Regions from separate parts of the Homo sapiens genome. Here region 2 is linked to region 1. The links come from fine-mapping of genetic effects on gene expression. A gene starts in region 1. The other region holds a variant in brackets. All regions are shown on one strand. Distances are from middle to middle.

Region 1 (5,252 bases):
AAACTATGACGTACAGTTCCCTGTTGTAACCACGGGCAGGTATTTGCTGACTTGCCTACAACCTGGAGGGTTATGAGCTGGCGTCGCCCCATTTCACAGAGGGAGAGCCGAGGTGCAGAGAGACGAAGCTGCTGACTGGAGGAGACATAGACCCAAGCAGCGAGCCCACGCGGCAATTTAGGGAACCAACTGTGTGTGCTGCGGGGGTCCCTTGCCACCCAAACTGGGATATAGGCTGCTGTTCGTACACTTGCAGAAGTTTCTCCCTGCAGCTACCGCCACCAATAATATTCACACAGCCTTCCCACATGCTATGTAAAGACTCCAACCTTCCCCACCTCCCAAGATGCATCCTGTTACTATAGCCATTTTACAGATGAGGAAACCGAGGTTCCAAGAGGGGCAGTCTCTGCTCTCTAAACTTCACCTTCCAAAGGATTCTAAGCTGCTGAATGAAGGCTGCAGGCAGGGTGGTCTGTACAGGGGAGGGAGGGTGGAAGGCACGGGGTCTGGAAGTCTAGGAGGAGTGTCTGAAGTCAACTGCAACTTTTAAATATCTGTGAATTTTAGATTTCACCCTGTATGTGTCCCTAGCGTGTTTTAATAAAATAAATTGCTTCACGTTATATTGGTATGTGGATTTCCAGATACACTTCTCACCATTTAATTCAAATGCTCCCCACAGCTGCACAGTGGGTTTAAAATACACAGACACACACATTTATGGACCGTTCGTGATGTACTAAGCACTGTTTGAATAATGTCACCGTCATGCAGAGGGGAGCCTGTGGGGGGCCTAGGGAACCTACGCTGCAGGAATTCTGCTCCCTCCTAGTTTACCTGTCAGACCCTGGGCAAGTGGCTTCCGTTCTCTGGGCCTCAGTTTCCTCTCCTGTAATGCCTGAGGATAATGGGTGCTGGTATCTTCTGCGCCCCTGGGCCTGGGGCACCTGCCCCAGCTTGGTGAGAGGGTATCATTTGTCCTTGGGAAGCTCAGAGAGATGAGGTGAAATGGCCAAGCTTTCTAAGAATGTGTCTTTAGTGAACATTTGACCCAAGGTCAAGGCTCTGCTAAGGTCATTGTCCTTATCCCCAGCAATCCCACAGGATGGGCATCTTTAAGCCACTTTATAGGGGAGAACCCTTGGGATGGGAATGAGAGACACAGCAGCCTCTGAGCTAGCCTGGGAGGATCCAGGGAGTGAACCGGGGGAGGGTTGGGGCCCTGTCATCAGATGCCCTGGGGGCTCAGACGGAGGCAGGCCAGGTCTCTGCCCTGTTACGTCTAGAAGGAGAACAGAATGTGGGCTCCAGGTCCAGATGGCCTGGCTCCAAGCCACACTTGCCATACCTCAGTCTTGAGATCTGTGAAAAGGGCACACCCCTGAGGCAGGTGGAAATTATTGGATACCCAGGGGGAGGCTGCAAGGGTTTATCTGGCCAGCTGGAGATCCCGCCTGGACACCGTCCTCCTGGGGTGCTGGAGAGACACACAGGCGAGGCCACCCCTCCCCTGCCCCTTGGGTGCTGGGTGAAGAGAGCAAATTCTGGAGCCTCCCGTGTTAGCCTGGGCCCTTCTGGCCAAGGAAGGGACAGCTGCACACAAGCCCCTCTAGCTGGGGACCCGCAGCCCCTGCCTGGCTCTGGGGGGAGAAGGGAGCCAGGGTGCTGTGGGACCAGCTCACCGTGCACCCAGGGTCGTACATCTTTAAGGGGAAAGAGGCGCGCTGGCCGGCCTCTGCGCACGTCACTTCTTCATTCCTTCCCTCCCCCCTGGCTCTTTCCTCCAACTTCCCGGCCAGCTCGGGGGTGATGGGGGGGTGGGGAGGGGGGGCCTTAAAAATCCACCCCTGGCCCCTCAATGTCCAGAAACAACCCTGTCCCCCCTCTCCGCTTGATCCGAATTGGGGTCGCCCTGCAGTCCTGGGGTCCTGGTCTAGTGCCCTGGGGCATTGCGTAAATACGGGAGGAGCGGGGGGGTCCTGAGACGTCGGGGGAGGCTCTCCTTTCTCGCTCGCGCCCTTTTTTCCCTCGTTTCTTTGAAAGTTGGGTGTTGAGAAGTGGGAGGTTCGGGGTGGGAGGGGGAGGGTGTCAGAGGGTAGAGAGAGAGACAGAGAGACAGAGACGGGGGAGAGAGGAAGAGAGAGACGGAGGGAGAGAGGGACAGAGAGCGAGGCGGGCGGCGCGAGAGAGGGAGAGCAGGAGGGAGGAGGAGGGAGACCGAGGGAGGAGGCGGCGAGGAGAGCGCGCCGGCCGCGGGGCGGGGGGGGGGGTTGGGGGGGGCGGGGGGGTGGTTTGGAAAAATGACTCAGTAAGTTCAGCGCGCCCGCTCCGGCCGGCCCTGCGCCTCCCGCCGCGCCCGGGATGTATTCGTCCCCGCTCTGCCTCACCCAGGTACGGTCCTCGCCCGGCCCCCCGCCGGCGCCCCCGCGCCCCCCGCATCCCAGCCCCGGAGTTTTGAAGCAGGAGGAGGCGGGACGAAAAAGGCGCGCGTCCCTCCCGCCATCCCTGCCCGGGATGCCCCCCGCGCCGAGGGCTGGGGTCCGGTGGGGGGATGGGTCAGGCTGGGGTACCCCCCCCACACCCTTACCTACCGCGGACCCCCTACGCGGGACTCCCGCCCAGCACCCCCAACCCCGACTCTCGGGACCTCTCCCGGATGTGGGGCTTGGTCTGCAGATTTGCGTCCCCCCCCCACACACCGACGCACTCCGCACCCCCGCCCCGACACTCGGAAAGGTCGGGGTGGGGGCTGGCCCCCCTCCAGCAAGGGCTCTGCGGGAAGCCCCCCGCCTGCCTCTGAGAGGAATCTAGGGGGTCGTGATTGGACCCTGGGTCTCCCCAGCTGGAGAGAAAGGGACCTCTCATGTGTTTTCCCCGTGTCCCCCCACCAAGGTTGTGCGGGCCGCCCTGGCCCTCGGTCGCCTTTCCCTCGTTATTGGCCCACGTGTGCATGGAGGGGGAGGGGGCAGGAGAAGTTGGAGGCCCAGGAGGGGGAAGGGTGCTCCGGCGGCCCGGCTGGGTCCCCCCTCCTTTGCAAGCCCCCCAGCACCGTCCCGGTATTTTCGCTGCATCGATTCTGGATTCTGGATTCTGGATTCTGGAGCCGCCGCCGGGAGGAGCGGGAGGCCCGGCGCTCCGGGTCTGGCCCGGGCACTGCGGCGCTGCGGACGCCCTCGCCAGCCCGGCACCTGCCCCGTCCCCTCCCCCTCCCCCTCCCCCTCCCGTAGCCTCTCACCCCTGGCCGCACTCCCAGACTGCCCCGGGGCCGAGCCTTGTGCAATGGCCGAGGGGGTGTGTGGGGAGGGGGCGGCTCCCCCCGGGGACTCCTTCCAGCCCAGGCTCCCGGGGACCCCGAGGTCTGCAAGTTCCGTTTTCTAGACCGCTGCTTTCCTCCTTACGCAGTGTGTCTTTAGGCTGGAGAGGTTCTGGCCTCAGTTTCCCCTGAAGTGAGGTGCGGCTAAGGCCGGTTCTGGAGAGGGGACAGTATGGCGGGCAAACTGTAAAGTCCCGGCACGTGGGGGGTGCGATTCCAGCGAGGGCCAGGCCCGTCTTAAGAAGCACTGTGTGGGGAGTATATGAGTCCCCGGCTTCCGCTCCAGGGCATGGTGCAGTGAGGGACCCCCCACGCCAGGCATGCTCCTTGGTAGGGTCTTTCTCACCGGCCCCCTGCAGCCGACAGGGAATGTGGGAGCTGGTGCTGAGGGGGTCTGAGGTCTGTCCTACCTGTGATCCCCTGAGTGACCTTGGGTAAGTCCCTGTCCCAGCCTCAGTTTCCCTTTCTGAGCAGCTTTGGGGGGGGGGTTCCCGAAGAAGGCATCTCTTTGAAGTTCTCCAAGAACAACTAGGGTTCGAGTGGGCACGCTGTGTGACCTCGGGCAGCCTTTGAAGTCTCTGGGCTTGTGGGGTGACTGAGGTGTCCCCGCTCTGTCCTCACCAGCTGGAAGGAGCCATTTGGGAGGGCTGAGCGGAGGGGAGGCTGTTCCAGGCTGGGGAGGTTGGAAGGCTGCCTGTGCACCCTGGAATTCCCCCATCAGGGCTGGTTGGGAGACATCCTGGTTGCTGGGGTGGGTTGGGGGTTAGTAAGAACCCCAGTCCAGGCTTTGCCTCAGAGAATTGCTAACTCGGCCTCAGTTTCTCCAGGAACAGGGCAAGGACCAGCCAGGAGGGCTGTCTGTGGAAACCAAAAAACGGAGAGGCTAAAAACTAAAAACTATCCAGGGGTGCTGCGTGCAAGAGACAGAGATGAGAAGACAGAGACAGGCAGAGAGACAGAGGCAGAGAGCTCCCAGGCCAGAGTGGGGACAGCGAGTCCCAAGTGCAGGGGGCTCCCTCCTCCCCTGCGATTCTCCTCTCTGCCCCGCCCTCCACCCCAGCCCTGTAGTGGAGCTGGGGACCCCCTTTCCAGTTTGTCTTCAGCCTGAATGTAATCCCCACTGTTCCCCCAAGGCCCAGCCTGGTCTGGGGTAGCCAGTGGGGTGGGCTGGGGGACTCAGAAGGACCCTGAGTGCCCCATGCAGGAGCCTCCCACCCAAGTCCTGGCTGCCTGACTCAGTTTCCCGAATCACGTCCCCTCCGTTTCTCTCATCTTGGTCTCTTTTTGTCTGTCTTTCTCTCTTTCTCTCTGTCTTGCTCTGACTCTGTGTGTGTGTGTGTGTGTGTGTGTGTGTGTGTGTCTGTTTCTCCCTGTCTCTCCATCTCTGTCTCTCCCCGCCTCTGTTTCACTCCCAGTCACTGTTGGTCTCTTTGTGTCTCTCTTTCTCATCCTCTGTCTCTCTGATGTCTCAGTCTCTCCCACTGTCTCTGTCTCTTCATGTCTATCTCACCATCCCTTTCTCCTCTTTGTCTCTGCATGTCTCTTTGATGTGTCTCTGTCTCTCTGTCTCTCCCTCCCTTTGCCTTCTTTGTGTGTCTGTCCGATGTGTCTCTGTCTGTTTCTCTGTCTCTGTCTCTCTGCCCCCTTCCTCTCTGTCTCTGTTTCTCTCCAATATGTCTGTCTGTCTCTTCATCTCTGTCTCACCTTCCCTTTCTCCTCTGTCTCTGCGTGTCTCCCCTTGCCCCCTCTCTCCCTGTCTCTCTCTATCTCTGCATGTGTCTCCTTACTCCTCTCTCTCTGTCTCTCTCTGTCTCTGGGCCTCCCTCTCCCCCTTTTCCCAGCTAATTTTACAACCTGAGCCCAACCGAAAATAGCTCCCTTTTAGCTGATCCGACCCGGATCCTTCTCGGGAGCCGAGGCTGGCGGGGGGTGGGGG
Region 2 (5,466 bases), 95 kb after region 1:
TTACCCACCCATCGCCCCATGTCCGTCCCTATCAATCCCCCCACTGTGAGGCTGGGTGGCTCTGACGCCCTGGCCCCTCCCCTCTGTGATGTCCTTCACGCCCCTACATTTCTCCTGCACGGGAACCCACGTAAGCAGCTGGGTAAACCGAGGGTGGGGGGCAAGGCGGGCATTGAGCCACATGCCGGGAGCCACACAGGCGGCTGCAGCCAGGCCAGCAGGATACCAGAGCCCAAACCTCCCCCTTCACACCTACTGCCTCAGTCTCCCCTCAGCTGAGTGGGAGGATGTGGAGTTGAGGGTGCCCCCACCCCACCCCCGCCCCATTGCTGGGGCCACAGCCAGGCAGGAAGGGGAGGGGAGGGAAGGGAGGAGGGAGGAAGGGCTGAGGGGAGGCTGGTCCACCACGGGGAGGGTCACGCCCAGAGTCTGTCGGTTGCCAACAGAAACCAGACATGAGGTAATGGCCAAGATGAACTTGAACTTGGCTGGAGGTGGGGCGCTGGGAACCACTGTGGCGCCAGTTCCATGGGCTGGCCCAGTGGCTGCCTGGTTGGAGGGGCTCTGTTGAATGATTTGCTGCAGCGGTGGGGGGCGGCCCCACCTCTAACCTCAGTTGGGGAGTGGAGGGGTCTCCCCAGTTCCAGAGGCACAGCCCTCCCCTCACAGTCCACCCTGGATGCTCCATCTGGGGTTGGAGTTTGCGTTTCCAGGGCAGGGGTCTGGACAGCAGCTTCTCTGCAGAGACTGAGGCCGGAGCTGTCCCCAAATGACGTGACCTTGGGTACAGCCCCATGCAGAACTCCCCTCCCTTAGCCTCGGTCTCCCGCCTCTGGGAGGTTGAGAGTCATCCTCAGCCCCCCTGTGCTTAGTGAGCTTCTGTGGAGCAAGAGGGGGCCATCCGGGGGACCTGTGACAGGATGGGCCCTGGACGCCCAGGACAGTGCTCAGAAGATGCCAAGGGGATTCCTGAGAGGCAGGCGAGGGGGTTGGCCCTGGGCAGGAGCAGAAATGAGAGCCAGAGCCAGACAGGCCTGAGTTCAAGTTCCACCTCTGCCGCTTCCATGCTGGTGACCTCGGGCAAGTTCCTTGACTTCTCTGGGCCTCACTTTCTTCACACAAAACAGCGGTGGAGGGAGACCTACCCCCTCCTTCACGGGGATACCGGGGACATCATTAAAGAGGAGAATTTTTTTTTGTTTTTTTTTGGTTTTTTTGGTTTTTGTTTTGAGACGGAGTCTTATGCTGCCCAGGCTGGAGTGCAATGGCACGATCTTGGCTGACTACAACCTCCGCCCCCTGGATTCAGACGATTCTGCTGCCTCAGCCTCCCGAGTAGCTGGGATTACAGGCACGTGCCACCACGCCTGGCTAATTTTTGTATTTTTAGTAGAGACAGGGTTTCACCATGTTGGCCAGGCTGGTCTCGAACCCCTGACCTCAGGTGATCCACCCACCTTGGTCTCCCAAAGTACTGGGATTACAGGCATGAGCCACCGAGCCCAGCCTCTTGTTTACTTTTTAAAAACATTCTCAAGGCCATGTGCAGTGGCTCATGCCTATAATCCCAGCACTTTGGGAGGCCAAAGCAAACGAATAAGCTGAGGTCAGGAGTTTGAGACCAGCCTGGCCAACATGGAGAAACCCCGTTTCTACCAAAAATACAAAAATTAGCTGGGTGTGATGGCGCATGCGTGTAATCCTAGCTACTCGGGAGGCTGAGGCAAGAAAATCACTTGAACCCGGGAGGCAGAGGTTGCAGTGAGCCAAGATCGTGCCACTGCACTCCAGCCTGGTGACAAGAGCGTGACGCTGTCTCAAAAAATCAACAAAAAACCTCTTTATAAAGTGAACAAGGCAGCTGATGTGGTGGCTCATGTCTGTAATCCTAGCACTTTGGGAGGAAGGAGTTCAAGGCCAGCCTGGTCTACATGGCGAAACCCCACCTCTACAAAAAAAAAAAAAAAACTAGTCAGATGTGGTGGAACATACCTGTGGTCCCAGCTACTCGGGAGGCTGAGGTGGGAGGATCACTTGAGCCCAGGAGATGGAGGCTGCAGTGAGCTATGATGGCACCACTGCACTCCAGCCTGGGCAACGGAGCAAGACCCTGTCTCAAAATAAAATAATAAATTGGCTGGCCACAGTGGCTCACGCCTGTAATCCCAGCACTTTGGGAGGCCAAGGTGGGCGGATCACTTGAGGCCAGGAATTCAAGACCAGCCCGGCCAACATGGCGAAACCCGGTCTCTACTAAGAATACAAAAATTAGCTGGGTGTGGTGGGGCGGGCCTGTAATCCCAGCTACTTGGGAGGCTAAGGCACAAGGATCACTTGAACCCAGGAAGCGGAGGTTGTAGAGAGCCAAGATCACACCACTGCATTCCAGCCTGGGCAACAGAGCAAGACTCTGTCTCATAAATAAATAATAAATAGAGAAGAAAATAATTTTTAAAATATAAAATAAAGGCCAGGCAGAGTGGCTCACGCCTGTAATCCCAGCACTTTGGGAGGCCGAGGCGGGCGGATCACGAGGTCAAGAGAGTGAGACCATCCTGGCCAACATGGTGAAACCCTGTCTCTACTAAAAATATAAAAATTAGCTGAGTGTGGTGGCATGCGCCTGTAATCCCAGCTACTCGGGAGGCTGAGGCAGGAGAATCACTTGAACCTGGGAGGCAGAGGTTGCAATGAGCCGAGATCATGCCACTGCACTCCAGCCTGGCAACAGAGCGAGACTC[T/C]GTCTCAATAAATAAATAAATAATATAATATAATAAAGTAAGATTGAGTTCCAGACTGGGAGTGCTGGCTCACACCTGTAATTCCAGCACTTTGGGAGGCCGAGGAAGGTGGATCACTTGAGGTCAGGCGTTTGAGACCAGCCTGGCCAACATGGTGAAACCCCATCTCTACTAAAAATACAAAAATTATCCAGGTGTGGCGGTGGACGCCTGTAATCCCAGCTACTCGGGAGGCTGAGGTAGGAGAATTGCTTGAACCCAGGAGGCAGAGGTTGTAGTGAGCCAATATCACGCCATTGCACTCCAGCCTGGGCAACAAGAGCGAAACTCCATCTCAAAAAATAAAATAATAAATAAAATATAAAATACAGTTCCAGATAAATGGATCTTTTGTGTGTGGTGTGTAAGTATATCCCCAATGTTGCGTGGGCTAGACTTATACTAAAAGAATTCTGTGTTAACCAGAACTCCAGTTTCACTGGGCATCCTGTACTGTGTCTGGAAGCCTCCCTCAGAGACAAAGTCACTTGCCATGGGTCACCCAGCAGGTTGTTAGAGCCTGGGATGGGGAAACTGAGGTCACAGGGTTGCAGGAGGTGGGGGGTGAGCGTGGGAAGAGGTAAACCATGTCTGCAGCAGAGTCTGACCCCTCGACTTCTCTCCCTTTTTCTCTCTCCCTCTTTCTGTCGCCACTGGGCCACTCAGTCCTGGTATCTGGGATAGCAAAGGTCTTCTTCCCTCGCCCCTTCTCCATCGTCCCAGGAATCCCAGGGGGCAGCACAGCCGGCCCCCGGCCCACGTTTTCGGTGGAAAATTAGAGTGAACAAGAACACCCCTGCCGACTCCCAGCCCGGCCAAAAAGACAAAACACATAGACGCACACACTCAGGAGGAAAAGAAAAAACAAAGGCAGAAGAAGAAGAAGAAGAAATAAAAACCCACCCAAGCAAGAAGACAAAAGGTAAAGACGCAACGTTTCCAACTCTCGGGACGCCAAGGCCGCAGGACTGGAGGGCCAGGCCCCGCCACCCCCACGGGAGACCCGGGACAGGGCGTCTTCCTAAGTTATTCATCTCCTCTCCGCCTGCTGCTCGGGAAGGACAGACGCCGGCCGCCCGCCCGCGCCCCGGAGGCCCTGGCTCTGTCCGGAGACCAGGTGAGCACAGCCTGGAGCCTGTGCCCAGGGCCGACAGGCGCGACACCCAGCAAGGCCACCTCTCCCCGGGCCCCCGCGCCTCTGCCGGACACGGACCGGCCCCTCAGCCCCCACCGAGGACGCAGCCACTGGGGGGAAAGGGAGACACAGCGGACCCCGGCCGGGCAGCGGAGACCGCAGAGGCGGGCAGGGTGGGGCAGGCGAGTGGTGTCGCGGGGGTGCGTGGCGCTTGCGAGCCCTGGCCAGGGGAGGAAGTGAGGCCCAGGCACCTGCTGCCCCTCGAGGGGGCCCTGCCTGCCGCGGGGCCTCCCCACAAGCCCCTCCCAAAGCGCCGGCCGACTCGCTGTCTCGCTGGGGACTCTTTCAGCCCTCGCGCCCGCCCGTTTGGGAGGAGAAGTCTCTATGCAATTGGCCCCGGCCCCTCCACCCCCCACCCCCGGCATAGGAGGCCCCCCCACCTCGCCCGGCTCACACCCCCAAAGGGAGGGACCCACATTGCACACACTGTAAGAAATGCACTTTCCGAGGAAGGGGATGGGGGAGCCCGGACACCCAGAGCTCCCCGAGTTGGGGGTGCCCGTCTGGAGCGCCCCCGTCAGCCCCTGGCGGTGGGAGGTGAGAGCGAGTGGTTTAAGTGCCTGATTACCACCACCCGCCCCCCCCTTTGTCCAGCTGGGACACGGAATGGCCGCGGGCCTCCTCCCCCTCCCCTCCAGCCTCTCCACCAGCCCCTCCAGTCAACCCTCATCGCCGTGCCCCCCCAGAGCTAGAGAGATGGGGCCCCTGCGTGGCCCGAGGGGCAGAGCTGGGCGTCACTTCGCAAGCGTCCTGCCCTGCCGGGGCGCGGGGGTGGGCTCTGGGGAAGCCGGTGCGCCCCCCACGCCTCCGCTGCCAGTGCCTTACATTCTGGAGCGACCCCCCTCCCTGGTGCCTCCCAGCGAAGGGGGACCGCCGTTTGCACTTTCATCGCCTACCCCGACGCGGGGCCCAGCTGCGGGACGTGCATCACGGCTGGGCCCCCAGAGGAGAGAGGAGGCCGACGCCAGCGGTCCCCGCTCGGAACGGGGAGGGTTTTCGGGGGGTTCGGCGTCGCACCTTGGGGCCCCCCGCAGCCGTGTAGGGGGCCTCCCATCTGCTAAGCGTTTTTCCGTTGAGCCGCTCCAAAAACACTAAGCTGGGGACGCCAGGTGCCCCCCCACCCCGGCTCCCTGGCCCTATCCACACCTCCACCCCCACCCCAGGATCGCCATCTTTAGGGGAGGCCTGGGAGGGGGTGTTAGGTGTTTTAGGGCCACCGAGCTCAAACACAAGGACCCCTCCCCGGCCCACCCAGCCCAGCCCCAACTGACCTCCATGCCTAGGGAAAAACTCCCCCCACCACTGCCCCCTCCCCCGACCCAGGCCAAAGCCAGGGCAGGTCTCCGGGTCTCACCTGCTCCTAGCCTCACCCCCCTGCCCCCGAAAACCAGACTCTCCTCCCAAACTAGCCTCAGGAGCTTGGCGAACCCGCTCGCTCCTAAAGAGAAAGACCCAGGACCCTCCCCCATCACCCCCAAGAGAGGTTCGCCA

Evidence for each region. PIP is the estimated chance that this variant, and not a neighbour inherited with it, causes the effect.
Region 2: its variant is fine-mapped to the expression of NFIC in tibial artery (GTEx, PIP above 0.99). The same link has a PIP of 0.9 or more in esophagus muscle, lung and sigmoid colon.

Annotation. Positions count from the first base shown.
Region 1 is chr19:3,364,273-3,369,524 of GRCh38, forward strand. NFIC (nuclear factor I C) reads left to right here and starts at 2,311. Exons shown (of 11, transcript NM_001245002.2): 1 at 2,311-2,394. The coding sequence starts at 2,365. RefSeq lists silencers at 1,940-2,029, 2,480-2,629, 2,920-3,319, 5,091-5,252.
Region 2 is chr19:3,459,306-3,464,771 of GRCh38, forward strand. NFIC (nuclear factor I C) reads left to right here. Exons shown (of 11, transcript NM_001245002.2): 11 at 3,447-5,466. The coding sequence ends at 3,464. Among named protein-coding and RNA genes, the nearest start is that of SMIM24, 18 kb to the right of the region's middle. RefSeq lists enhancers at 3,234-3,769, 3,770-4,305 and a silencer at 4,757-4,957. The variant T/C (reference allele first, on the strand shown) is at 2,742.